Homo sapiens: one gene and its partners. The protein of the gene in region 2 interacts with the protein of the main gene of each other region in a pairwise test. Each region holds a gene or a part of one and is shown on either strand. Other genes may lie near its edges.

Region 1 (7,775 bases), on a different chromosome or scaffold from region 2:
ATTGGTACATCACAAATATGTGGAAGATCTTTTTTTTAGGTAGAGCATTCATTAGGTGGAATAAAGTAACCTCTATGCCAAAAGGTTAGTAATAAGAGAAGACAGTTTTAAGTTGGAAATATAATTTTTAGTGATGGAAATAACATTTTTATGTGAAGGTAATTATACCTGTACTGATTCACTGTCAGTGGGATATGCACTTAGATTTGTGGATGTGGGTAGTATGTAAAATTATGTTAGTTTTATTTTACATAGTTAGTAAGTTGTTTTCTGTGCAGTAGATTGGATATTTTTGTCTACTTTAAACGTACTATCTTCCTTGTGACCAGCGGCACGAATTTATCAAGGGTAGGAGTGTTGTTTGTAGCCATGAAACACTTCATCCTCTATGAAGTATATTGCTCCATAGGAAAAACTTGTCATCATTGTCATCATTATTAATGTAGATAACATAATGAGTGTTTACTATGTGCCAGGCACTGTGCTAATATGATAATACATATTATCATATTTAATCTTCAGAACAGACTTATGAGACATATACCGTTATTATCCTCACTTTACAGATGAGAAAACTACAAATTACAGACGTTGAATACATTCCCAGAAATCCAGTCATGTAGGCAGTAACTTGTGAAGCTGGAAAATTTGAATCCAGGCAGTTTGACTCTAGAATCTTTGCCCTTAATGACTGTCCTATACTGCCTACTTTGTATGTGGTCTATAGAGATTTACTGGTGTGTAAAGTATTTGGATCTCTGCCACTTTTTTTGGACACAGGAGGTGAAATGGAAATGATAATGGGGGTTACATGTCTTCCTGCTGATGTTAGGAGAAGCAGCATGGTGTAATGGAAATAGCTTTGGGCCTAGAATAAAAAGATCAGAGTTTGACCTCTGTATCTGTATCTAGAGTGAGATTATTTAAAAGCAATCTAAAAGCAAATGCTGTTGAAGGTTTTATGATTTTATGTAATCACAATATGTAAACATTTCAACTTATATAACTACTATAATTTGTGACAGATGATTTGTTTTGAAGGAAGATTTGCCTTATGATTATTTAATTACTCAGTTACTGCATTAATTTTAAGTCCACCAAACTTTTCAGGAGCATGTCTATTGTGAAACAACCGGGTATGTGTGTATGGTAACACACTTTACTTAACATGCTTAATTTAGTTTTGTTCTTTTTTTGTACTAATTTGCCTACCTATCATATCCAATTTTATTCACAAACTATATAGATATATATCTTTAGTCTTATGCATATATCTATATATGTATCTGTCCCATGGCAGTGTAAGAGTTTGTATTTTTTCATGTGTTTTTATTTACCTTTTGATGTCTATACATGTAAGACATGAGACTCTTTACATCCCTGAAAGCTTGGTTAAGATGGTGTCTGCTAGGTTTATTCACTATAAAGTCACTATTTTTTCTTTTGTAATTACAAAGTGAGACTATGCAGGGCAATATTGTGAGACAATGTAAATATCCTGTTTCTCATCATATATTTGCCCACTAATTTTAGCATATGTTGATGATTCTGGCTTGAATAAATTATTGTTGTGACATTTGCCAGACATTGATTTCAATTTTCAACATTTTTACATTTATTAATTGATTGAATTATACTGTAATAAAAAACTTTCTCTTTACGCTTAATGTATATATTTATTCAGCTGTTTATAGCAGTATGGACTTAATGAATATTTGTTTTATTCTATAGGTTATAATGAATTATGCTCTTACTACTTTTTGTTTTTGCTGAAACCCAGATTTGGCCAACAGGAGCCCCTTCAAATTGGCTCCTGTGTCCTTTCAACATGTCTCCATCATTTTTTAAGCACCCTCTTACTTTCTGGCACCACAGATGTTCCAGACTCTTTTTTTTTTCTTTTTTTTTTTGAGATGGAGTCTTGCTCTGTCACCCAGGCTAGAGTGCAGTGGCGCGATGATCTCGGCTCACTGCAAGCTCTGCCTCCCGGGTTCACACCATTCTCCTGCCTCAGCCTCCCAAGTAGCTGGGACTACAGGTGCCAGCCACCATGCCGGGCTAATTTTTTGCATTTTTAGTAGAGACGGGGTTTCACCATGTTAGCCAGGATGGTCTCGAACTCCTGACCTCGTGATCCACCCGCCTTGGCCTCCCAAAGTGCTGGGATTACAGGCGTGAGCCACCGCACCTGGCCTCCAGACTCATTTTTTAATTTCCTTGCCCCAACTCTGGAATCAGAATCTTTTCTCCAAGGAGCTCTGATTCTTTTTATTGGAGAATGGTATGTAGAAGCCAAGATCTGGGTGCTTGGCATGCTTATTGCTACTGAGGTGTCATTGCCTCTAGGCCCTCTCAGCAGGCAGAACTAGGAAATATATGTATATATGCACACATACCTGTTTCTATATCGATTTCTTGAAGTCCCTCTTTATATATGTCAAAATCATGGATTCATAATGATACATCTGATTCCAGTCCAAGACCCTAGAATAAATATACATGATCTCATTCTCTTCTGGTATTTCTCTTCACACGTTTTGTGGACTTTGTAGAGGTCTTATACAGAGTCTTCAAGAGGTTGGCCTCTGAAGTCAGACATGGAATCTGACTGGTAGATGTGTAACTTTCAGCAAAATAGTAATCTTTGAGACTTAATTTCCTCATTGGCAAAAGGAAGGCCGTAGCACCTATCTCACATATTTTTTTTTTTAGGATGAAATGAGAAAAGTTATGTAAAACATATAGTATTTGACACCATAGTAAATGTTAAATCAATTTTAGATTTCATTATTGTCATTATATTTATTGACTTACCATTTCTTACTACATCAACTCTCAAATCTCCTGTCTGATTTTCAAGGCCTATCATGATCTTTTCCCTTATCCAACCTTATTTTTCATTACAGTTTATAATATACTCCCTCCAGTCTAGCCTAGGTAAGCTTTCCTACAATCCCGTGAGCACTGCATACACATTTTGGCCCTCCATCTTGATTAGAATTTTGTGGATTCAAGTCTTTGCTCAATTCCAGCAAATGTTTACATTTATTCAGCAGATATTTATTCAGCAACTTCTAAGTACTCAAAAATTCTATTTATGCTGTTCTATTTCTATTCATGGAGGTGTACTGCCTACAAAATCATTTTGTGCTAGACACTATGGCTAAAACCAAATAAAGACAAGGTTCTTCCCTTCATGGTGTTTACATACTGGTGAGAATAGCTAAATAGTCCTGTGAAACTTTCCCTTATTATAGTATCAAATACTGATTGTACCTTTCTTTGAACATTTGTAATATTTAGCCTCTCCCAGTTTCGTATCTGCATGTATTTGGTCTTATAGGCATTTTGTTTTATGACATTTTATCTGTTCTTTTTATTTGATTAAAGTCCCTTTTGAAGCAATAACTATATATTTGTTCATTCAACCAATTCATATGTTGATTTTATATGGTAACAAAAGTAACAGCTGCTCAATGTTGGAAACTTGAAAAACATAAAGAAAATAAAAATATGTCCACAGTTCTACCAGCAGGCCAGAACTGTGCTGGCTGAGCACAGAATAATGGTGTGTGTTTTGATTATTGTTGTTTTTACTATTTTCTTTCCTATATATATAATATGTTTTTAAAAATAAATTTGGCATAGAACAATGACTTGTAAGAGTACAATTTTTGAATTGTAAATGATATGTTAAGGTTTGGATGTGAATCACGAAACTCTAAGCACAATTCATGTTTCAATTGCTATGGTAAAGTTTTCATTTCATGAAGATACTGAATTTTTAAAATACTAAAAAACCTGATTAAATAAACACTAGCTAATAACTAAAAAAAAAGTTGGTTAAAATAAAAAAGTAAGTTGGGCTTATTCTACATATAGTTTTATTTCTTACTGTTTGATCACTTATCAAGCAGTTTCCCATGTTAACATTCTTAGTTTTAAAACGTTATTTTAAAATGATTACATACAACTTGTATTTATACACACTCCAATTTATTTACCTGTTCACTTTTGTAGAGTATATTTTAAAATGTCAAGATTTGTTAGCCATCGTAAGAAGTGCTGCCATGAACATTTCTTATTCCATATTTTTATTATTTTATTGCTACAGCCGCCTTCATGGGGAATTAGTGGGTTAAACGCTATAAGTATTTTTCAAGTCTTTGATACATACAGTAGACCCTGATATTTAAAAAGGCTATATCAACAGAGAAATTATGGTAACTTTTTTAGTGGTTACTATGTTATATCCTGTTAGGTAGCTAATGTTATTTCCACTTTTATATACAAGGAATCAGAAGCCCACATTGGTTAAATAACTTGCCAAAGGTCGTGCAGTTGATACATGATTGGGCCAAGATTTAAACCAAGGCTCTAGAACCTGCTCATGAGATTCTCCTCAATCCCTATTTCATACATGGTAGATAATAGAGAAAAGTAAAGTCATGATGAAAAGTTGAATAATTCTCATTGCCCTTTCTGTAAACCCTTCTGTGACTGGTCACTTAAGATGATTCTGAAGAAAGACTCTCCATTGGCTCATCTTTTAATAAGTCTTTACCATAACTGCCTAGGCCGTTCATCCTTAAGGGCTTAAATTTTAATTTTGTGCACAATATATCCTCCTACTTTTCTCCCCTGGGCAGAAGGTGGAGCTTGCCCTCCACAAATACCTCTCCTACTGATCTCTTCCCAGCTATAACAGTGGTATAACATACTCAAATTCATTGACATTCTCCCTCCCCCAGAAGAGTTTTGTGCATATGCATCTGAAATGAGAGCCCCTTCTGACCACTTTCCCCACCCCTCTCACCAGCCCCTGCACTGTAGCTGTCTTTCAGGCTTACACTTAAATGGCTGTGTCTTTACCTAGTATTGTCCCTAGCTTTCATCTCTCCCTTAGTGATACTCAGAAACTTCCCTTCATTAATTCTTAATCTTTTTTTTCCACTTTGGGGAGATAATATCACAGCCTCAATTCCCTCTTTTTAGAAAATTAAACTGGTTAGTACATACGGAATGTGAGGTCCCCCATCCATTTTGTACCACTCCCAATTTGTAACATACTCACTTTACCTTCTCCTCACATTTCCTCAGTAGCCAAATGACATCATTGCCTGTTTGCCAGCCCTATAGCTTGCGCAATTGAAATTTATTTCTCTGCAAAGTCACAAACTGTTATGCATTGTGGTTTTTCCAGGTGGCATTTGAATAGCTGAACTTTAAGCTCCTGAGTGATAGGGATCTGCTCTTGCCAAATTACTTTCCAGAATGGTTTTACCAATTATACTCCTATCAGTAGTGTATAAGAGTGCCTGTGAGACAGACTTAATTTTTCTTTCCTATCTACTACAGTGACTATGGAATTGATGCTCAATTGATTGCCAGTTGGTTGGCTGATTTGGTCTTAGTCTCTAATGATTTTCTTTTACAAATGTAATCATTCCATCATCTCATCCCCTTGTGATGATAGCAGCTACGGAACAGAAGTAATTTTTGAAAATGTATTCTTTCTAATTAACATTATAAATGAACCACCCAGACACTTAGCTAAATCTTTATTATAAAGATTTGTTTTTAAATAGCAGTAATTCTTGAGGATTTTAGAGAAACACCTTCAGTGTGATATGTGACACATAGGCTTCTTTCATTTTAACAAACCAGATTCTCATTTTATGCAACTTGAACTTATTTACCTCCATAGTCTGTCCAGGTCCACCCACACTTTGTGCCTTTAGCAGCTTCTGCTGGCCTTTAACCAAAAGGGCAGTCTATGATGGTACTTGCTACCCTGTTGAAATGGGAACCTTAAATCCCTTGCTTTTCATTAATTAAAGACAGTCAAAGGCAAATGTTATAAAAGAAACAGGCTTTTGCTAAATTTAATTTTTAACTTTTTTATTTTAATGAATCTGTTATAAATGTCAGATGCTTACTAACTTGTAGAGAATGTAAGTACCATTTACAAGCAAGTTCTATTCTGGTTAATGGAATTGTGTTTTTGACAGTAATAAAATAAGACTTCAAGAAATTCTGTTAAGGAATTTGTATCATGCTATAATTCAATCAAATAATATTTTTCCTGTATATAGGAGAACTGGCTGGTTTGCTTTCAAAATTTCTTACAGTGTATATGACATTAATTGAGTACTGAAAGAGATATGGAACTTTGAGAGGGGCAGTGGTATTAGGAGTGGGACATGACTGATGAATTATTTAGTATATTCTGTGTTTACAAGCCCTCCAAAAGCTTGCTAAAGGAGGACTGGTCCTTCTCTGTCCATATTCTCACAATTTAATTGATGTAGTAAAATGTTTCTGTATGTGGAAGATAGTCATGGTGGTGTCTGTTTATATTAGATAGGTTGTTTTTCTTGCAAGTGCTAAAAAACACTATCTGTCTTAAACAATAAAAACAATTTTTAGCTCACATAACAAGAAGTTTGGAGGTTGATTATCTCCAAAGTTAATTAATTCAGCCAAATAATGACACTAGTAAGGGCCAGAGTTTGTTCCATTTTTCTGTACTGCCATACTCTGCCTATCAACTTGCCCTCTAATATTAGTGCCCCTCATACTCTCAAGATGGCTGCTGCAGTTCCAGGAATCACATGCAGACACTGCAATGCCCACTAGAAAGAGAGTATGAACTATTCATGTGTATCTCTTTTTACTAGCAATGGAAACTTTCTAAGGAGTCCCACAGCACCACCCTGAAAACACCTCTTATTTATCATTGGTTGAAATCGTGTTATATGTATATGCCTACACCAGTACATTGGCAAGTGGTATACGGACATAAACGTAGAGTTAGTCCAGTCACTCACACAACCACCTCTCCCTGCCCTGCGTCTGGCCAAAACACATTGCTACCTAGAAAAGTTGGAGGGTGGAAAATATGTAAATAAACTCATGATGTTTTGGGGGGAAGGAAGAAACAGTTTCTATTTCACAACCTCATGAGTTTGTCCTCAGGATCAGTTGATACAAAAGATTTGTAAGAAACTGGTGTATTTGTTAAATGTGATATATTACTTATCTAGGGAAACGAATGTTTTGTATAGTTCTACAAATGAAAGTTGTTGACTGTTCATAGGCATTTTAGAGCTGGAGGGACATTAGTGATCTTTTAGGTCAGTAGTTCTCAAACTGTGGTCTGTGGACCCCTACGGTTCCTGAAATCCTATTAGAGAACATGAGGAATATTTTAACAGTAATATTATCTTAGTCTGTTTGGGCTGCCATAACAAAATACCTCAGGCTGGGTGGCATATAAACAACAAATTATATCTCATTGTTCTGAAAGCTGAGAAGCCTAAGATCAAGGCAGATCAAACCTAAGATTCAGTGTCTGGTGAGGGCCCTCTTTCTGGTTCACAGATGTTATGGTCTCTCTGTGACCTCACATGGTGAAAGGGGAAAGGCGTTTTTTTCTCTGGAGCGTCTTTTACAAGGGCACTAATCTCATTCATGAGGGCTTCTCCCCGTGACATAATCATCTCCCAAAGGCCCCACCTCCTAATGCCATCACCTTGAAGATTATAATTTTAAAACATATGAATTTTTTTGGAGGGGACATAAACATGTATCATAGCAAATACGAAGAATGTTTACTTTTCTCACTATGTTGACATTTGCACTGATGGTGAGTAAAATTACTGGTGCAGTGTACCACATTTTCTTAGTAGTTGTATTCGTCATACTCTCAGGGGGGAGAAAGCCAGTTTTACCTCAGAGGGTCCTCAATGTAGCATTAATTTATATTAATTGAA
Region 2 (7,775 bases):
GTGTGTGTGTGTGTGTGTGTGTGTGTGTGTGTGTGTAATTCCAAAGCTGGTGCTTTTAACCTCTACCTTGCAATGACTTAAGGTCCCTGGGTATGAAGGAGAAAACGGGATGAGTTATCTGTGTTACCGCATGTCATTAGAGGTGAGGACATAGGTGAGCTTTCTACTCATTTTACAATCTAGAAAACAAGACCAGAGGGAACCTGTGTCCTGTCAGTGAACCATAACAGAACTTGAATCCAGGTCTCTCACCTCCTCCTCCCTGCCTACCCCATCTCCATGGGTTGGACTGATTGATTACCTGAGAGATCAGTTGGGCACAACACAGTATTCCACACTTCTAGGGGCTTGGAAGAGGGCATACATAAACACCAACCAGTGCCCTGCCAGTAGGGCAGATGGCATGGGAATTTGTCCTACTGTTAAGGAACAGCTAGTACTGGGGACAGCAAAGGATAACTGAAACATTAGTTAAAAGATGCCTCTCCCTTTAATCTCCTTGAACATAAATTATGATAATCAGTAACAAGGAGAAATTAGAAAGCTGAGATAATAAATGTGACAGAGCTTTGTAAACTCTAAAGTATTATATACAGGATGTTCTGAATATCTATTGAAACAAGGGGCATGTTGTTAATACCCATTTACCAAAAAGAAACAATCTATCAGGTAGCTAGGGAACTGCTGCCTGCCATGGGGGGCAGGTCTCTCAAGGCTAGGAAACACCCTGCTTCCTGAGAACTCTTTTGTAACTCTCAGCAAGGCTAAGAGCATCAATGTTTCTTTCCAATGTTGCCAATGAGTGTCTCTGTCTCCTCCTCCCAGGTCTCAAGGCTGGCTGAGTAGCTGGCTGCCCACGTGGCGCCCCACTTCCATGTCTCAGCTGAAGAATGTGGAAGCCAGGATCCTCCAGTGTAAGTAGAATGGACAGCTTGTCCCACCTCCCTCATGGAGCCCAAGAAGGATTCAGGATCTTCCCAGAGCCTGCTACATTGAGCCCACTGATTCCTAATTAACAGTGTGTATGGGGTGGGAGGAAAGGATGTCAGTTGTGTGAGGGAAGAGGTGCATACAGACGGCACCATATCTGATAATAGTGCTTCCTCACCATCTCCCTAGCCATGTGGATAGTTCCTGCCACTTCCTGCAACTTCACCTCAAACCCTATGCCAGTGCCGGCTAACACACACAAACACGTACATTCTCCCCTTCCTCCTTCCTTCTCCCCCATTTCTCTCTTCCTCCCCTCCTCTCTTCTCACCACACAAGTACTTCTTAGATTTACCACCTGCAGATCCTTGGCCAGCAATCTTGCATTCTCTGATGTTACTATTCCTGTGTTCTACCTGGTTTTGGCCCCCCACCTATCTGGTTACCACAGTAGTTTGTGGTTTGCAGACCAGCTGTCATCGGCACTGTTACATTGCAGCAGGGCATCCCACTAGCGGCAGCAGCCACTCGCTCAAACAAGCCCCTTAAGCCACTTCTTCCCATATTTCCCTTATGATCTTCACCACACCCCTACTGCCCCAGCCATAGCTACCCTTTCTCTTCTGGGCCCGAGTAAGTGCAGACAAACAGCAGCCAGAGCTCTCAGGCCTCTGTCCAGGATCCAGGCTGCTTCACCCAGGCAGCTCTTCCCGGGAGACTGCTGTCACACCAGCAGAACAAGCACTGCCCCACCTCAGTCTCTCACCCGAGGCTCAGTCCACACCCATCACTCCCTCCAACTGGCTGGACCACAGTTCTGTCCATCCATCAAGCCCCAAGCACACACAGGTTCAAGAGCAATAGATGCAAGAGCTCTGTGGGGTTGGTGGTGTCACTACCACCTGGGGCTAAAGGGAGCTGGGCACGCTGTTTCAAGGGATAAGACGGTCCCGCTTATTATGTACAGACTACATGGTCTGTAAATGTGATTGGAGTTGAATTCTTTAGAGTGTGTAGTGTTAAAGAAAAAGTGATTCTGACAGATTAAATCGGTAAAGATCATTCAAAACTACTGCAATAGGGGAGAGAGATCAGGCTCAACTCTTGAATACATTAAGGACTAGTGGGGATTTATAACCAAGCAGCATGGTGAGGGGGGTCAGTGGATAGAAAATTGCTGAGGAGATATCAAAGATAAAGGGAGATATCAAAGATAAAGGGAGTTCTTTTCAAACCAGTTTAACAGGATCATTGCTGAAGGAAGGTCAAAGGTGAGGGATGAGGAACTTGATCAAATATGAAGGAATTCTTACTAACTGATGTATGACTTACTCATCCTGACTTTGCAGGATTCTTGCTAAGACTGAGCTAGACATTTGGAAGACAGGCCAGGGGCCAAGGTCAAAGCCTAGTCAAGAAGAGGGCTCAGAAGGGCTTGCCTAAAGTTTGGTTAAGGAGAGAGTTGTTTTCAGTGGTCAGAGGGTTGTGAGAGGAAGGAGCTGAGGGAAGTTGGGGAGGGTTCGGGAATGGAGAGAATGTGAAGAGTGGTAGTCCAGGCAAAATGATGATGCCGTCAGGAAACACTTATTGACTTACCATGGGATTCTTTCCTCCCCAGGTCTCCAGAATAAGTTCCTGGCCAGATATGTATCCCTCCCAAACCAGAATAAGATCTGGACGGTGACTGTGAGCCCCGAGCAAAACGACCGCACCCCCTTGGTGATGGTGCATGGTTTTGGGGGCGGCGTGGGTCTCTGGATCCTCAACATGGACTCACTGAGTGCCCGCCGCACACTGCACACCTTCGATCTGCTTGGCTTCGGGCGAAGCTCAAGGCCAGCATTCCCAAGGGACCCGGAGGGGGCTGAGGATGAGTTTGTGACATCGATAGAGACATGGCGGGAGACCATGGGGATCCCCAGCATGATCCTCCTGGGGCACAGTTTGGGAGGATTCCTGGCCACTTCTTACTCAATCAAGTACCCTGATAGGTAATAAGGAGATGGCTCCATCCCTCGTGACCTAATTCCTGGCCTTACTGGGAACTTTCCAGTATTCATTTCCAAACTTCTCTCATTCCCAGGCGATTTAAGGGGCTATGGCAACTACCAGAGAATATAATGTGTCTTCTCCTCTTTCCGCCTTTAACATAGAGTTAAACACCTCATCCTGGTGGACCCATGGGGCTTTCCCCTCCGACCAACTAACCCCAGTGAGATCCGTGCACCCCCAGCCTGGGTCAAAGCCGTGGCATCTGTCCTAGGACGTTCCAATCCATTGGCTGTTCTTCGAGTAGCTGGGCCCTGGGGTGAGTAGCCTGTAGTATCTCCTTAAAGGAAGGCTATAACGTTCTAGAAGGCCCACAGTGTCTTTCCCACTTATTCCTAAAAAGTGGAAATTGGCCTAGCCTTGTTATTTAAAGCTGTTAATCTGAACCAGATCACTTTGTTCAAGGTTTGAGAAGGTTTTTTGTTTTTTTGTTTTGTTTTGTTTTTTTGAGACAAAGTCTCGCTCTGTCACCCAGGCTGGAGTGCAGTGGTGCGATCTCGGCTCACTGCAAGCTCCGCCTCCCAGGTTCATGCCATTCTCCTGCCTCAGCCTCCCAAGTAACTGGGACTACAGGCACCTGCCACCATGCCCGGCTAATTTTTTGTGTTTTTAGTAGAGACGGGGTTTCATCGTGTTAACCAGGCTGGTCTCGATCTGACCTCGTGATCCGCCTGCCTCGGCCTCCCGAAGTGCTGGGATTACAGGCGTGAGCCACCGCGCCTGGCCTGTTTTTTGTTTTTTGTATTTTTTCTCTTCATCGGCATGGGAAAAGCTTTTCCTATGCCAGGAACAGGTGGAGCAGAATAGCTACCAGAGTCTCACTCTATCTCCCAGGCTGATGTGCAGTGGTGTGATCTCAGCTCACTGCAACCTCCGCCTCCTGGGTTCAAGCCATTCCCCTGCCTGAGCCTCCTGAGTAGCTGGGACTGCAGGTGTACCCCACCACACCTGGCTAATTTTTGTGTTTTCAGTAGAGACGGGGTTTCACCATGTTGGCTAGGCTGGTCTTGAACTCCTAGCCTCTAGTGATCCATCCGCATCAGCCTCCCAAAGTGCTGGGATTACAGGCATGAGCCACCACACCCAATCTGTGTGAAATTTTATGAAAACCTGCTGGTGATTCATGCCCAGTAACCACTGGATCCCATCCCTGTGGTTCACCCAACACCTGCAGCAGGGAGAGGTCAGAACCAAAGCCTCCAACATAACCCACAGTGGCAGGCAAGCCCCTCTGAACCATGCACTTGTCCAGGCAAGCACCACATCTTCACCTGCTCTGTGTCACCTAGCACTTGGTAGCTGTCAGCAAATTCTGTGGGTAAAAGGGAGAAAAGGAGGTGGAGGACCATGGGGAGCTAGCCATAATGAATAGTATCAATATCTCCAGCCTTCTGACCTCACACTGCCAGCACCCTTCTCCGCTGGGGAGCTTTTTACTCTGATGAAGTGCAAAGCAGAAAAGTGCAATCTTTTCCAATGGAAAAGATTGGTGATGCCTGTCTTGTACTGATGATTGTGCTTACAGAGTAATATTCAATAGCCAATTATTATGAGTTAATTGCTGATGGCTAAGTAAGAGTTATCTCTCTAGGTCCTTCAAGAAAAACAGAATGATTCCAGATAAAGAAAAAAAGCATTTGATTAGAAGATAGGAGTTTAGGAGTTCTGAGAGAGAGGAAGGATACCAAGACACGGGTGCCAAAGGACAGTAAGTGGGCAGAGGCTCCCAGCACCGTGGTCTCCAACAGAGTCTATAGTCCTTTGCCAAAAAGAAGGTCTGCTCGAGCTACTCTCCCCTATTCTCACCTCTGGCCAGGCTCATGCAGGAGCATCAGAGCTATCATAGTTGGGGAAGTTGGCCAGCAGCCATGAGGGACTATGCAGGAGGGAGGGCCAGGCCCATGCAGATCCTCATGGCACCCCCAACCCAGCCCCTTCTTACCTCCCTCTTGCTTCTCATAAACAGAGAGAAGACCAGAGAGAAAGAGAGAGATCAGGGATCAGAAGTTGACCAGTAGACCTCATTTTTACAGTCTGTTGTTGCATGTATGTATACCATAATGAGGTGAAACGAACAGATTGTTGTAAAACAGTGCCCTGAGTCTGAGACACGATTGTGTTTAGTTCACCTCTCCACATATTCTAATACAGGCCTGAAAATGAGAGCGCTGTCGGGAGGTGGTCTAGTTCCATCCGCTACCATCAGAAGATTAAAAGGCCATAAGGGTGTCTGGGAGAAGGAGAACATAGCTCAGGCTATAAGAGAAGAGCATCTCAGCCATGGATTCTGATGGGGAGGGCTTGTGATTCTTGCAGGGAAAGATCTCGGGGCTTCATTGAGCTGAAAACAACCTGGCTCCTCAGTGTTGTTAGATTGTCTCTAAATTCTCTGGTAATGAGCTGACTTTGTGATTTGAAGTCACCTGGACCTTCCCAGTAGATTCCTGCACTCTTTCTGCCGCTGTAGTGTTAAATGAATAAAGCAAACAAACCCTTAGGAGAAATAAGGTTTAGTTAAAGTTCTCAAAACATACACAGGCAGGAGTCTTCCCTGCCCCACCTCCCAAATTGGCCTGTCTGTGTTTTTCTATCCCCTCCCAGGGCCTGGTCTGGTGCAGCGATTCCGGCCGGACTTCAAACGCAAGTTTGCAGACTTCTTTGAAGATGATACCATATCAGAGTATATTTACCACTGCAACGCACAGAATCCCAGGTGAGGGCCGCTCCCCAGGCCAGCTTGGGGCAGACAGTTGTTAGGAGATAAAACTCTTAGCTGCTGGAGTTCTGGGCTTTATTTCTTCTTCAACAAAGCTCTGACTCAGTTAGGTAAACACAGGCACTAGCAAGCCTGATCATTTCCAGAGAGTTCCCCAGGGACAGACACAAAGGAATACAGAAGATAATAGATTAATTAAACATGCTGCCCATCTCTAGAGGAAGGCCCTCCCTGTTCCCTACAGGTATGCAATTGGCCTGATGAACAAGAGTCTGGAAAATATTAATATTTTAAAAGATTTTTTTAACTGAAAAATTGATACAAACATGGTATTTTTTTTCTTTTTTTAGGTCAAAAATAATTAGCAAAAACATGATATTTTTCAAAAGGAAAGGAAGTCTTCTCCTGTCCCGGGCCTGTAGTCCCTACATTTCCTTATTATTTCCAGTCTAACATAGCACATGTACCATTTCTTCAGAGGGCCTCCATGTACATATTCCTTTGTACACACATGTGACTGTATCTGTTGAACACATTACTACCAATAGAATTTCTCAATGAAAGAGCATGCATTTTAAAATTTAATTATGTGCATTTGAAATGCCTTATCATTGAGACAGAAATTTTTTTGCATCTTTGGGAGATTTGGGGGTGTCTCGAGAACTTTGAAAAGTTCCTATCTGGGGCTGCTTATTTACACAGCAGGCCCCACAAGCCTACCTACCTGCAGTTTGGGCACCGTGGATGGCAGGGCAGTCAGGGAGGTAATCCTCTTATGTGGAAGTGCCCTGTGACTGGCTGATACCACGAGGCCATGTTGGTGACACCCCGAGCTGCTGGGAGGTATCTCAGCAAAGGCAAGCTTACTGCCCTACTCCTTTCTAGGGCTGTCCAAGTCACTTGTTGGGAGCCCAAAGCCATGAGAAAGGCAGAGATTTGCATTCCAGCAATACTGTCTGAACATTAACCTCAAACCCCAACAGCTGTTGGGCAGTGTGTGAGCTGTCTGTCCAGCATTCCACATGAGCTCAGCTAATTGAAGAACCCTGATCAAACAGTAGTATAGAAACTCCCAGCTCAGCAGTCAAATCAGGTTCCCCTGTCTTCCTGCCGTTGGCCCTTCTCTCAGCCCCCATGGGCTCAGTGCCTGTCTCATACCCACCTGAGGCCCCACAGGCCCAGCCCTAGCCCTTTCCCCAGAACTTTCCCCATCCCAGACCTAGTTCTGTACAATGTCCTCCCAACCTAAGCCACAGAGTATATAAGTTTATAATTCATTCACATCCCAGAGGAAGCAAAGGTGACATCAGTGACAACCAGCTCCCTCACCCCCAAACACCGTCACTCAATTTTGTAACTCCCTGAGTTTTTTGACTTTGTAACCCTGACAAGCTCATGGTAACTCTTATCATTTCCTTGGAAAACATGAAATTTGACCAACATGTTTGAGGGTATCTACTTCATCTCACCTAAACTTAGGGGCTTTGTATATATTTTTATTTTCCTAATGATGTCCTAGTGAAGTAGGTATAATACTCTACATTTATAGATGAGGAAACTAAAGTATATTCTGGTTACATGACTTGCTAAGAAAACACAGCTGAGGATTTGAATTCATTTGACTCCAAATTCCATGCTTTTTCTGCCGTGCTGCAGTATCTTAAGGAAAAATTTATTTCTGATGGCCTGGGCAGAACTCAGGTTCCCTTTCATCTGTACATGTAAAAGAGAATGGAGATCTGATGGTACTAAACAGGCCAAGCCTAGGAGGCAGCAGTGTCCCCAACCTGCCCTATCTCTAGCAGAAGCTGCAGACCAGCCCCAGAAAGCTGGCTCTGCCCCAGCCTTGTGGACACCTCATGATACGGCCTCAATTCATTCTACCTGAGCAAATGACCGGGGAGTGAAATAGATTACATTGGCATTTGTTGTTTCTTGCTTAACAGAAACTGCTGCTCCCCCAGCCCTTGGAAGACTGATTTTTAATTCCAGAGTCTTCTCAGGAAGCCCTTTTTACTACTATAGTACTCACTTTTAAGCGTTCACCTCAGATGAACTTCTGACCATGTCTCTAGACCCC
Region 3 (7,000 bases), on a different chromosome or scaffold from region 2:
TTTAATATTTTTTACATCATGAGACATTGTTATGATCTTACCTGATTGTTATCTCAAGGTGAGCTAATCATCTTTATTTGCCTTAAAAAATACTGTACTGGCTGGATATTTAATCTTGTTAGTTTAGTTATACACTTGTTTTAGTCGAGTTTAATTCAAAAGGACTCTTAACAGTATGGTGTAAAACTCAGATTTTCTAGTCCAGACAAATTGCTCTCTATAACGATTTGGCAGATCAATGGAGACATCCGTTTTAACTTTACTGTTCTGTACTTACTATGTAGTCATGTGCAGCTTATCAACACAAAGAATACGGATGAGGGCATTTAAATGGACTACAAGTGACTCTGACTTGTAAACTAGGGAAGCCTCTTGTGTTTGACCTTAAAGGCCAGAGAAAAACTGAAGATAGATTGACTTAACTATTGCCAAGCAGATTATGGGTTACTTTATACTTCCTTTCATTCTCCCAGAATTGCTCTTAGAGCTAGGTGTCGTCATTAGCATGTTGTTGCTAATGATACAAACAAGAACATACATGTAATCAGAGGTGGACAAATCTTCAGAAGTTCCTTAAACTGGTTTAAAAAAGAAGATTGGGAAAGAAGACTAAATCAACATGTTTCTCCGCTTTGAAGATAAAACCAGAAATGGTTTCCATTGTAGCATCTTGACAATAGACAAATATGTAAAGTTTATAGCAGATAAGACAGTATTACTAGTTTTTCAGGGAATTGAGAGTTACAGGTTACTCTGTGTGTGTGTGTGTGTGTGTGTGTGTGTGTGTGTGTGTGTAAATTTCCCGATTTATCACTAGAGTGAGTAACTAACTAACTAACTGCTTTATAAAGCTATCCTGGTATTCATATGCCATATACTACGGAAACAACCAGGCCAATCTCCATTCGATTTCATTTCTCACTTTGTTCACTTGCATATTAATCACGTATTTCCTAAAGTATTATTTAGTAGACCACACCAGCACAATGGTTCCTCCAGCTTTTGGCAGGTGGTCTTACTGTACAGAAGTTATAAATGACACATACAACCTTCCCCTGCTCCCTCCCCATGAGCATGATGCATGTTGTAGTCAGACAGTAACATTTCCATATGTACATGTGCACAAATACATTAAAAACATTTCAGAATTATATAAAATTGTACATTACAGGAAGTAGAACCATAAAGATTATCCTAAATGTAACTACAGAGAAAATGCGTGCAGGGAGAGCCCAGTAAAGTACACAGCCTGTGGGGTATATAATTTTATTTTAAGTTTATATTTCCTGCAGGATAGCAACATACATCTTTTCCTACCCAGAGGCAAAATACATTTTCCAAAAACGTGGACACTGCCCACTGCATTAAGTTTAAAGTGCTCCCTATATATATAGACAGTAAAAGTAAGCAAAGAAACTTACAACACATTCCAATCTTTAATATCTCAAAAATGTTTCCAAGGCAACATTATTAAAATAATTATACCACAGTCCCTAATATAACATCAAGCTCCAGTAGGAAGGTACAGAGAGGGCAGGAAGTTTCCATCCAGTCTGGTTTAGGTGCTCTTCTTTTCTTCACCCAGTAAATTCACGGTAGCTTTCTTCGCTGTTTGTTTGTTAGGAGGGAAAGAAAAATATATCAAAGCTCTTTCTTTGGAATGCAAGCTTGCAAGCTTTGTGCCTAATGTAGCTACTAGATAACAAAACTTGGATGACTCATGTTCAGGTGCGATCATGTTGGGGTTTGTGGTCTGGGCTAAGAGGGTTTCCAGGAAATGGAGAAGGTACCTCTTAGAGCACAAATCCTAAATACTTGAGCAAAATACTTGAAGGTCATCTAGCCTAGCCCCTTGTTGTGACAGTGTCACCGAAACTGTCTGCCCTCTATTCTCCTTTAAGCATTGAAAGAAGCAGAGATTCCTTAAGAGTAGTGTTCAAATTCTATTTGTATCTGTGTGCTTGCCTGTAAGATTTCACTTATCAATATATTATCAATCTGATGACAACTAGGTCATCATATTTATCCCATGGCGACAAATCAGAGAAGTCCTCATTCCCAGCACTAGAAATACAGTCATCCCTTGATATATGTGTTTGGGGGGGGGGGCTGGGGGGGCGGTGGGGGAGAGGAGATTAGTTCCAGGAACCCTACAGATACCAAAATCTGTGAGTGCTCAAGCCCTTAAATAGAATGGCATACATAGTATTTCCATATAACCTATGTGCTTTCATATACTTTATTTATTTACTTATTTATTTTTTGAGACGGAGTCTCGCTCTGTCACCCAGCCTGGAGTGCAGTGGCGCGATCTCGGCTCACTACAGGCTCTGCCTCCCGGGTTCATGCCATTCTCCTGCCTCAGCCTCCCGAGTAGCTGGGACTACATGCACTCACCACCACGCCCAGCTAATTTTTTTTTGTATTTTTAGTAGAGATGGGGTTTCACTGTGTTAGCCAGGATGGTCTCAATTTCCTGACCTCGTGATCTGCCCGCCTTGGCCTCCCAAAGTGCTGGGATTACAGACGTAAGCCACCATGCCCGGCCTCTTCCATATACTTTAAATTCGGCCAGGCATAATGACTCATGCCTGTAATCGCAGCACTTTGGGAGGCTGAGGTGGGAAGATCGCTTGAAGCCAGGAATTTGAGACCAGCCTGGCCAATATGAATGGTGAGACCCCCACCCCCCACCTCTATTTTAAAAAAATTTTAAAAGCCCATCTCTAGTTAAAGTACCTAATGCAACATGAATGCTATATAAATTGTTGTTATACTAAATTGTTTTTAAAATCTGTATTTATACTCTTATTGTGCCACCATTCTCTCCTATGATGAGAAGAGTTTGCTCTAAGTCTTTGAGTTGGTGACAAGACACTACATTCATCAAGAAAACATTCTGTCCAGGTGTGGTGGCTCATGTCTATAATCCCAGAGCTTTGAGAGGCTGAGGTAGGAGTATTCCTTGAAGCCAGGAGTTTGAGATCACCCTGGCCAAAACACAGTGAGAGCCCATCTCTATAGAAAAAAAAGAAAAATATATTTTCTTACTTCTGCAGGAGACCAAGCCTTCCACTTTCTAATTACCAAGTGGCAGGGAATGTGCTATGAGAACCAGTACAGTGTGTAAGATGGAGGGGAAAGGGGTTGTCTAGAAGCCTCCAGGGCCCACTGTGAGATTTTACAATCTGCAGCTGTTCTTGATGGAGCCAGAGCCTTAGTGATGAGAGCCAAGGAGTCCCTTCTTGTCCACCAGCTGCCTGATAGTTGCTCTCCCTTTGCTCAGTTAAAATTACTGAACCAAGTTCACAGCAAAGGAGAAAATGTAGTCCTTCCCTTAACTAACCCTTTGTAGAAATTCCTAGTTAATCCAAAAGCTTTGAGAAAAGTCTAAAATGTGGCAGCATGTAAATTCCTCCTAACTTATTTTAATTCTCTTGCCCCTATTTAGGAATGTGTCATAACAAAGTAAGATTGGATTTTAAGTATTGATATCTAAGAGAACCAAGAGGCTAAGAAATGTGGGTGAAGTAGACAGAAATGACATCACCACAGGTTGCTGATTAGGCTAAGGGAAGGGAGAAGAAAAGAAAGCTCTTAAAAATAAGCTGGTAATCCTGGCTGGGCATGGTGGCTCATGCCTGTAATCCCAGCATTTTGAGAGGCCGAGGTGGGTGGATCACTTGAGGCCAGGAGTTTGAAACCAGCCTGGCCAACATGGCATAACGGTGTCTCTACTAAAAATACAAGTATCAGCTGGGCGTGGTGGCCCACACCTGTAATCACAGCTACTTGGGAGGCTGAGGCAGCAGAATCCCTTGAACCTGGAAGGTGGAGGCTGCAGTGAGCTGAGATCATGCTACTGCACTCCAGCCTGGGCAACAGAGTGAGACTCTGTTTCAAAAAAAAAAAAAAAAAAAAAAAGCTGGCAATCCTAAAGTGGGAGGAGGTTAAGGCTACAAGTTAAAAAATACCTAAAACATATTCAAGTAGACTGGATTTGTATGCCCAAAAATAGGAGTCCAGAGAAGAGAGGTCTGTGAGGGAGAAATGGGGAACATACCACTTCTGGGGCATCAGTGCTGCTGGAGAACTGTCTTGGGATTTTACTTCCCCATGGTCAGGCAACCTCACAACTCCCATGTCTAACTACCACAGAGCTCTAAAACACAAAAACCTTTCTCCAATTTCTAAAATCTGAGTCCCTCTGGAACTCAAGACCCATCACTGGCAAAATCTATATCCTCATCCATTCCTCCGAATGTTTCCTTTACCTTCTTGCTCTTAGAGAAAGCTGGCTGTGCCCTGAGGACACTGCTTTCTCAAGTGGTGGCTGTTTCTTTCCTCTCATGACCCTAGTACAAATGGATCTGGTAGGTGTTGTTTTTGTTCTTCATTGCCACTTTCAGAATCTCATGTCATCAGATTCTATCACTGAGTAGCCTTCCCTTTCCCTGTCATCCCTGACTCTTGGGCTACTTTGCCTTAGTTCTTGAAGATTTTAGCTCCTAACTTAATGTTCCTTTCTAACACTACTCCTATTATTTATTTATTTAGAGACAGGGTCTCACTCTGTCACCCAGGCTGGAATGCAGTGATGCCATCTCAGCTCACTGCAGCCTCAACCTCCAGGCTCAGGTGATCCTCCCATCTCAGCCTCCTGAGTAGCTGGGACTACTGGTACGCATCACCACATCTGGCTAATTTTTGTGTTTTTTTTTTTTTGTAGAGACTGGGTTTCACCATGTTACTCAGGCTGGTCTCAAACACCTGAGCTCAAGCAATCCACCCACCTTGACCTCTGGAAGTGCTGTGATTACAGGTGTGAGCACTGCACCTGACCTACTACTCCTATTTTAATTATTGATGATTTTAATATCCATGTAGACATATGTGATGATCTTCTAATATCCTGACCTCTTAGTTCCTCCCCTCCAATAACCCTTATATTCCACCCTACATATGGCACTGACTCCCAGGATCCCTGTTAGTACCAATACTGCAGTCCCTCCATAATCTTGTATCAAGCATCCCACTCAGCCACCATCACCTTTTATCTTTGTAGTGCACTCCCCACCCTGCTTTTTTGCTCATTGTAGATGATGATGGAGTATTCCCGCTATTATCCTGATTCAGAGTTCTTCCACCACCACTTCCCACCTTACTCAGGTTAAATTCCATTGTCAAGCATTAACCACTCCACAGTCCCACCCTCACTTCATAGTTCTTGCTGGAAATCACAACCTTGACACAACTCTCCACCTACTCTGTAGCTATACCCATGTAGCTGAGTATGGCTGGAGAAAAACATAAACAAGAACTGGTTTCACTATAAATTCATGAACGCAAATCTCAAGCATGCCTTTAACACTGCCTGACAGTCCATTTACTCTCCAACTGTCCTAGAGGGGCCAGCACACTGCAGCCAAACTCGCTTATGTAGTGTCCATGGCTGTTTTCACACTACAATGGCAGAGAAGAGTAGCTGCAACAGAGACATGATAGCCCACGAAATTTAAAACATTTGTTATCTGGCCCTTTACAGAAAAAGATGAGCAGTCCCTCTCCTTCGCAACTATTTCATACCTTCTCTTTCCATTGTCTCCTTCCCCATCCTCTCTCAATTGGCCTTCCTACTTTACTGAGAAATATGAAACAATTAGAAAGTCACTTCTGTAGGCTCCCATAGTCACATGTGCTCACAGCATACCATAAAACCTGATTTCCCTGCTGTTACCATAAACTTCCAGCTCTTCGACCAATCCCTCTACTGTATACTGGATCCTTCACTGGTCAAGGACAGAGCTCCAACAATTCACCCTCTCACTCCTATCATCATTTTTTGCTCTGTTGAATTATTCCCATTAATTTTCAAACAGGCTTTGTTTCTCCTACCTTAAGAAAAAAACTTTTAAAATTTCAGGACCATAATTCCTTCTTCCAGTTATAGCCCCATTCTTCTGCTCTCCTTTGCAGGAAATTTCTCAAAAGAAAGATCTATATTCTCTCATCCCTTTTCTCTCATTCTCTCAAATCCATTGCAATCAGGAGTTTGATATCACTCCACAAAATCTGTGTTATCAAAATCACTAGTACCTTCCTCATTGCTAAATCTGCTCAGTTCTCAGTCCTTATCTTACTTGACCTGTTGACAGCATGTAACATGACAGATCACTTCTCCTCTCTGAAAGAAAAACTTTCTGTTCTTGGCCCCAGGGATACCACACGCTCATGGTTTTCTTGCTACCTCAATTGGCCACTCCTTATCAGTCTGCTTTGCTAGTTGCTTCTCATCTCTCCAGTCTCTAAACCTTAGACTCCCCAGCGTTCAGTCTTTGGACCTCCTGTTTCCTAACTACACTACCTTCGTGATCTCATCTAGTCTCATGCTTAATATGTATAAGCTTGTGGCCCCCAAATTTATATCTCCAGTCCAGACCTGTTTCTTGAACTCTTGACACCTGTATCCAACTAGCTATTTGACTAATCCTTGTAGGTATCTAACAAACAGACACCTCAAACAAATGTCCAGGACTAAATTCCATATCCTCCCACCCACCACAACCTCCCACCCCAACAAAACCTGTTCTACCCAGTCTTCTCCAGCTCAGTGGCAATTTTATCCTTCCATCTGTTCAGGCTAAAAAGCTCGTCCTTGTCCTTAACCCCTCTGACCCATGCCCAATCCATAAGCCAATCCATAAGCAAATCCCATTACTTCTACCTTTGAAATATATCAAGAATCTGATACTTCTTACCCCCTACTGCTACACAAGGAACCAAGCCACCATCATCACCTCCAGCCAGATCACTGCAAGAACCTTTTAACTGTTCTCCCAACTTCCTGCCTTACCCCTTCAGTCTGTTCCTAATACAGTGGCCACAGGCATCTTATTAAAACACAGGACAGATCATTTTGCTTCTGTGGTTAAAAGTCCCCAGTACCTCCACATCTCACATAGAGTAGAAGCCAAACCTTTACAATGGCCTATAAGGCATT
Region 4 (7,450 bases), on a different chromosome or scaffold from region 2:
ATAAGCTTTTTGATGGGTTTTTGTTTTGTTTTTTTGAGACAGGGTCTTGCTCTGTCACCCAGGCTGGAGTGCAGTGGTGCAGTCTCGGTTCACTGTCGCCTCCGTCTCCAGGGCTCAAGCAATCCTTCCACCTCAGCCTTCTGAGTAGCTGGGACTACAAGTGCACACTACCACACCTGGCTAATTTTTGTATTTTTTGTAGAGACGGAGTTTTGCCATGTTGCCCAGGCTGGTCTCAAACTCCTGGTCAAGCAGTCCGCCCGCCTCGGCCTTCCAAAGTGCTGGGATCATAGGTGTAAGCCACTGTGTCTAGCCAATAATTAATTTATATTAGATATTTTTGAATGTTAAATTCTTTTTTTTTATTTTATTTATTTTTTTAAGACGGAGTCTCACTCTGTCACCCAGTCTGGAGTGCAATGGCATGGTCTCAGCTCACTGCAAGCTCTGCCTCCTGGGTTCAAGCGGTTCTCCTACCTCAGCCTCCCAAGTAGCTGGGACTACAGACGCGTACCACCACACCTGGCTAATTTTTGTATTTTTAGTAGAGATGGGGTTTCACTGTGTTGGCCAGGCTGGTCTCGAACTCCTGACCTCGTGATCCACCCGCCTAGGCCTCCCAAAGTGCTGGGATTACAGGCGTGAGCCACGGCATCCGGCCTTGAATGTTAAATTCTTAAGGCTTCTTACTGTCAAAACAAATTTAAGGCATTCACAAACTGTGTACCAATAAGTTTTGGAGAATAATTATGGGTTCTATAAGGATGCATTTTTTATCACTGAATTTTAAAATATTGATTGATAATTGGTGGCCTTCATGGCATTTTCATATTTTAGTTAACAGAATCATTTTTGAGGGAGTTGTTTTTCCTGCCATTTTCGTACCACCTGGATCCCTACCACAGCCAAGTTACAGGTCAAGATTTTAATATGCCATGTAATTTGAACTTTTAAGAAAGTTTATGGCTGGGCACGGTGGCTCACGCCTGTAATCCCAGCACTTTGGGAGGCTGAGGCAGGCAGATCACGAGGTCAGGAGATCGAGACCATCCTGGCTAACATGGTGAAACCCCACCTCTACTAAAAATACGAAAAATTAGCCGGGCATGGTGGCGGGCGCCTGTAGTCCCAGCAACTCGGGAGGCTGAGGCAGGACAATGGTGTGAACCCAGGAGGCGGAGATTGCAGCGAGCTGAGATTGTGCCACTGCACTCCAGCCTGGGTGACAGAGCAAGACTCCGTCTCAAAAATAAGAAAAAAAAAAAGTTTATATGCATTTGTATGTAAAGTATTTTATAATCTTTAAAGAAACAACGGTCACATTTCTTGCCAGTGTCCTCCTGCCTTTAAAAATTCTCTTTTCTGGTTGGGGAAATGATGTTTGGTAACTGTTTTTACTATGTCTGCTTCTTTGCAAAGCTTTGTCTTTAACAGAGTAATATTCTATGCTAAAATAGTCATTATTTTTAGAAAGAAAATTGTTCAGTTGCTGGTTTCTTATTTTATATATTCTTCATTAAACAGAGTTGATCAAGAACTTAATGGAAAACAAGATGAACCGAAAAATGAACAGTAAGTTTGGCATCTAGTCCAAACAAGACTGAAGAATGTGCTGATGGAGCAGTGCTGTTTCTGCATTCATAATGCATTTATTGGCCCATATTTTTATGTAACCTGTTACAAAATAGACTTGACTTTTTCATAATGGACTTTTGTATTATACAAGGGACTGTTCACTGCTGTACTGGTTTGCAAATTTCTTGAATTTAGCTCTTTAATAGCTAACTGTATTATTATCGTTTTATATTTTATATTGCTAAATAGAGAACCACACTTTATATAAAGTAGTTTTTGCATTTGTTTATTGAATGATGCATCTTCTTCGGTGAAATATTTATATGCATAAATGGCAAAGGAAAGAAATAATATATATTTTTATGTCATTGAGCAATATTTTTTAATGTGTACCTGTCTTATGGAAGAAATATGCAGGTATATAAGACCACGATTTTCTAAAGTGCATATTAGAATTTTTGTTTTTGTAAATGGTTAAATACATTTCCTGGGTAACTTAGGAAATTAAGTTTTTCATAAGGCAACAGATGGTTAAACTGATTGTCATGAATACCCAAAGATCATGTATATAATCGAAGTGTATTAGTACCATCCCAAGGTTTTTTTCTCATTTAACATATTTGTTTCATAATTCAGCAAGTACAGATGCAAGCGCATTGCACACTTTTTCCTTTCTAAACTTAAAGACAAGTCAAAAAGCCATTCTTAGAACTAGAGGATTTAAGAGGGTAGGAATTAGGGTTTGTATATATGTATATATGGGACATTTTATCTTCTGGCCCAAAGTCAGAACTTTATAAAAATCTTGAGTTTGTTCACTAATGTGAAATAAGCTATGTGTCCAGGGTATTGCTCCCCTGAGTGTATATGAGTGCTGAGTAGTATTGCAGAGAATGTGATGAGTTATTCACTGTCACAACTTTTTCTATAGAAAACAGGGGCTGCTTTTTAAACTCTCACTATGGGCACTTTACCAAAATACTTCCATATCAATTATTTGAACTCGGTAGTTGTTTGACCTAGTTAGATGTGGTGTTTATTCAAGTTTGTATGAAATCATGTTTGACAATACTGTAAATTAGGTTAATTTTGTAAGTCTTAGCATCATCATATTGTGCTGTTTTGGATAACACGTTTGTTACAAGCATTTAAACTGTTTCATTTGGTAGTACCTTTACATTGAAATAAATTGTGTTTGTGCCTCCAAACAAAAAGTTTAATTACCGACAAAATTATTTCTAAAACAACAGATTGATCTGATATTGTGTCATATACTTGAAAGGCTCATACACAGCTGGTAAGCATAATACCTTCCAAATTTGAAGGTCATGGCTACTCTTCAACCCTTCCTGTAAGGTATTTTACAAAACAGTGGCCTAGAGTAGCAAAATTGAAGTGGATGTGAGCTAACCTTTCAAGATTTAGTCTATCCTAGATTGAACACACATGTGGCTGTGACCATTCTCATGTACTTACAAACCTTCTGTTACAAAAGGGAACTTTCCTATATTTTTTGTCCTCCTCAGTCCTAAACTTGGCATGCTAACTTAAAACCAGTTATAGGAGAGAGATGCTGGAGGATTCCCAGGATGAAACATTCCTCAGCAGCCTCCTGACTTAACTCAGATCCAGCAGCTCTTGGCAGATCCTGAACTAATGTCATTACAGTGAATTGAGCCAAAACGATTATTGCTTGCTCACATTTTAGGAACACTTGTTGTTGAAGAAGCAAACTAACAATAACAAGTTAGGCATTCCTTCTGAATTTACCATATAAGGATTATGTATAAACAATTATATTGAATTTGTCATTAGATTCTATATTTGTAGACGATTTAACGTAGTCTTTCATCTGTACATCTTTATCTTGCTCAAAATGGGCTGAGGTTTTTAATAGGTGGTTTTCTACCACATTAAGTACTTGGTTCTTCAGTTTAAAAAATATGAAGAATAACTTCAACTCTTTTTTGCATTATTTTGATTTTTGATTTTGCAGTCATTGCTCCTAACTGTAGATACATGTTGCAAAAGTGATGTTTTTCTGAATTTTTTTTAAAAGTAGAAGACTATTCTGTTAAACATTAAAATTCAGAGACAACAGTGATAACACCTGGGATATAATGAAAATGAGGTGCTGTGAATCAGTAAACTAAAGGGATACCTGCTTTAACCTGCACCTTAATGGAATCTGGTATAGAGATGTACCCACAATAAATGTTTTATAAGATTTAAGATCATAATAGTAGGTTAGAGGAAGAGCATTTATTAAGTCTGTTGTTTCTAATCTATAGCTAAGTTAACATTTCCCATATTATTCCATTTTAATTTCCCATTACTGACCAAGGTGAAAGTATATGTGATTGTACTTTTATCTTTCTGTTGGGATCATGGATCTAATTTAACTGGCTTAATTTGATGCTTCTGTCACTAGGCTCTAAGTGCCCCTTTTTTAGTCAGAAGTTTTTCATGTGAAATAATTTGATTCTGTGTTCTGCTTGATCATACTCCTAAGCAAGCACCAAGGGAAGACGTTCTATTCACCCCACAATTTAAGCTTAACAATCTTTAACTCAGAGGGAGATATGAAGAAATATGATTCTAAGTAGGGTCTAGCAGAGGCATTGGAAAGTGATAAAAGTAGGAAGTAAGAGAAAGCAAACCTTTATAAAGAGATAAAGACATAGTTGTTACCTAAGATGCCACTGTATGTGTGCCCTCTCTTTTTTTTTTTTTTTTTTTGGAGACAGAGACTCACTCTGTCACCCATTCTGGAGTGCAGTGGCGCAATCCTGGCTCACTGCAACCTCTGCCTCCCGGGTTCAAGCATTTCTCCTGCCTCAGCCTCCTGAGTAGCTGGGATTACAGGCACACGCCACAATGCCCGGCTAATTTTTGTATTTTTAGTAGAGACGGGGTTTCGCCATGCTAGGCTGGTCTCGAACTCCTGACCTCATGATCTGCCTGTCTCAGCCTCCCAAATGCTTGGATTACAGGCTTGAGCCACCACGCCCGGCCATGTGTGTCCTTTTAAGGGAAGTACCATATGTGACTGCTGATGGTAACATTTCTTGTATGCAGCAGGAAAACCTGCAGGCTATACGCAAGGTATGTGAATAAAGACTGTGGATTGAAGGGGGAAAAGTTGATAATACATACCCATGATAAGAATTCATATTTTCTCTTTCTTTGTCTCTTCATACAGAAGCAAGTTCGAGCAGAGAAGGTTAGCAGTTACAGCACTTAAAAGTTTAGGATTGAGGGTTTTTGGTTGGTTTTTTTGTTTTTTCATATTTCACTGTTGCTGAACATTGATTTAGTCTTCCAAAATGGACATCACTAGTAAGTGCACTGAATACTGAAATATGCTGATTGGCAAGCATATATCTGTAGCTAGAATTTTTTTAACCGTAATTCCAGAATTTAAAAAGGTAAGAGATCTGCTTTTTGATAGAGGCCTTTTAAAAAGACTATATAACATTTCTATTTGGCTGTTTATGTGAATGCTCAGGGAATTTGGACATGTGTTTTATACAGAAGTGGCTTTTTATATTTCTTCAAGTGATAAATTAGCATTAGGACATATCAGATAGAACAGGCCAGTTTCCTGATGAGATTGGTAGAGATGTTACGGTAGGTTCATCCTTCCTTTTTCCATGTTATATGTGGAGAAGTGTTAAACTTGCTCAAGCAAATGGGAGTAGGAGATAGGCTGAAAATAGAGATTGCTACACCATTCTATTTTGTTTTCATGCCTGTTTTTTCTCCAATCCTATATGGACATTTGAGAAATGGACCACAAATCTGAGAGGGATAGAGTAAAAAGAGGCATTAATGTATGTACTCACAAGTTAGACCTATTTTGCTGTTAAAATAGGTCTGGTCTTGTTATAGGTCATAGGAATTGTGTAGTTTGAGTTGCTGCGAGAAAGAGTCAAGAACTTAGACTTGAATGGGAAGGCCAACTGGTGAGGGAAGTGGGGTATTATCTACTCAAATGTTCTAAGCTAATACAAAAGAATTACCTGGCAAGCATCCCCCTCTGCCCTTCTTGAAATTCTGAATGAACTTAGAATCAGATCAATGGTGAGACCCAGTTATGTAACTTTCCTTTGAAGTTCTAAAGGATAATTGAAAATAAAGTAGTCTGGCATGTTTAACAGTAAGGAGTGACACTAAAATTTGAATATAACAGTATGTTGCAACTATTTATAATAGACCTATTTATGTTTTGAGAACTAAGTAAAATGCTATGAAAAATTCACATAAAGCACGTAAGCACCAAATGAAAATCATTTCGTGCTTTCAAATTAATGATACTAGGCTTGTAGGATGTCTTAGAATCATGTTTAACAAGAAGTTAAAATATTTGCATTTTGAAATTTTTATGCAGTTTGGCTAAGGAGGAACTTGGAAAATAACATTCATCAGCTTCTACACTGCACTTTTTGTATGTGGACTTTGTAAAGTTTAATGTCCGTTTAACAGTTGCTTGTTTATTTGTGTAAACCTAGCTAGTAAATATTGATGATGTTCAGGGCCACTGACTTGCACAGCCCTTGGAGCACTATTCACACAGAACACAATTCAGAGTTTGTTAAGACATTAACACACTTTGATATCTATTCCAAAAATACTTTTGTTACCACAGGTTCATTGCTGTCATTTAGACAAAATTAATGTACTGTGATATTTTCCTACTCTTAAGATGATGTTGCCCAGCCGAGTACTGTCAGAAATTCAGTTCTGATGTCTGTGTGTGCAAGATATTAATGTGGTCCCTGTAAGAAATACCAGAGTTGGTCATGATTTACTAAGGAGATGTAATATTTTCTTTGACCTGTTAGGAATATAACTTGTGTCTTGATTTGTTGCACATCATATTTTTTGCAACATTAATGAATTTAAATAAATTAATTGGAACGTTCGTCTTTGTCTTTTTATCACATTTTTCTTTCATTATGCTACTAAATTTTTGCTTTGAATTATCCTATAAACCTCTTAAATAATTTCAGACCTTTACACTTGTTTCCCTTTCTATAGTCTAAGTGCTTCTATTCTTTGGGGATTAGAGAGTTCAGCCTGCTTTATTTTAACATCAAAACAATAATGAAACTTTGTGTTTCATAGTTGAGATTTTTTTTTAATTAATGGGGAATCCAAGGATGAAACCATGAGTGGCTTAAAATGAAAACATGGCTTTTTTTTTTTTTTTTTTTTTTTGAGACAGTTTCGCTCTTGTTGCCCAGGCTGGAGTGCAATGGCGCCATCTTGGCTCACCGCAACCTCCGCCTCCCAGGTTCAAGCAATTCTCCTGCCTCCGCCTCCCGAGTAGCTGGGATTACAGGCATGCACCAACACGCCCAGCGAAATTTTTTTTGTATTTTAGTAGAGACGGGGTTTCTCCACGTTGAGGCTGGTCTCGAATTCCTGACCTCAGGTGATTCGCTCACCTCGGCCTCCCAAAGTGCTGGGATTACAGGCATGAGCCACCGCCCCTGGCCGAAAACATGGCTTAAATAAGAAGAACTTGTTTAGTTCATAGACCTGCTCAGAGGTTCCAGCTGATACCACTTGGTGTTTTTTGTGGTTTTGTTGTTGTTGTTTTGCACATACTCTTTAATCACTATTCAGCTATTTTGTAGGATAAACTGCTCTACACATGACTGCTGGGTTTAAGCCAGTTAGTGTACCATGCACCCTGACACCTAAAACAATTTGTGATTTTGCAAACTTGAAATTTATAGTGAAGTATTTATCTTGCATATTAGATGCAAATTTTAAATATAACTTCTCCCAAATTAAAGTTCTTCATGAACTGGTCACAAACTAAAAACTTTGCCTGCAGCCCTGTTTCGAGGGGTAAAGAAGATACCCT

The links.
Region 1: the proteins of ABHD4 (region 2) and COL4A5 interact in binary tests that used the Homo sapiens proteins (3 or more experiments, as listed by UniProt).
Region 3: the proteins of ABHD4 (region 2) and REEP5 interact in binary tests that used the Homo sapiens proteins (3 or more experiments, as listed by UniProt).
Region 4: the proteins of ABHD4 (region 2) and BNIP2 interact in binary tests that used the Homo sapiens proteins (3 or more experiments, as listed by UniProt).

Annotation. Positions count from the first base shown.
Region 1 is NC_000023.11:108,442,325-108,450,099, forward strand, and holds part of COL4A5 (collagen alpha-5(IV) chain isoform 2 precursor), read left to right. Parts: intron 1-7,775. UniProt on the Homo sapiens protein: Type IV collagen is the major structural component of glomerular basement membranes (GBM), forming a 'chicken-wire' meshwork together with laminins, proteoglycans and entactin/nidogen.
Region 2 is NC_000014.9:22,600,842-22,608,616, forward strand, and holds part of ABHD4 ((Lyso)-N-acylphosphatidylethanolamine lipase), read left to right. Parts: intron 1-825; coding exon 826-914; intron 915-2,548; coding exon 2,549-2,921; intron 2,922-3,083; coding exon 3,084-3,238; intron 3,239-4,945; exon of another isoform or gene 4,946-5,025; intron 5,026-5,580; coding exon 5,581-5,692; intron 5,693-7,775. UniProt on the Homo sapiens protein: Lysophospholipase selective for N-acyl phosphatidylethanolamine (NAPE).
Region 3 is NC_000005.10:112,877,228-112,884,227, forward strand, and holds part of REEP5 (receptor expression-enhancing protein 5), read right to left. Parts: intron 1,609-7,000; coding exon 1,559-1,608; 3' UTR 1-1,558. UniProt on the Homo sapiens protein: Plays an essential role in heart function and development by regulating the organization and function of the sarcoplasmic reticulum in cardiomyocytes.
Region 4 is NC_000015.10:59,658,195-59,665,644, reverse strand, and holds the end of BNIP2 (BCL2/adenovirus E1B 19 kDa protein-interacting protein 2), read left to right. Parts: intron 1-1,524; coding exon 1,525-1,576; 3' UTR 1,577-6,499; downstream 6,500-7,450.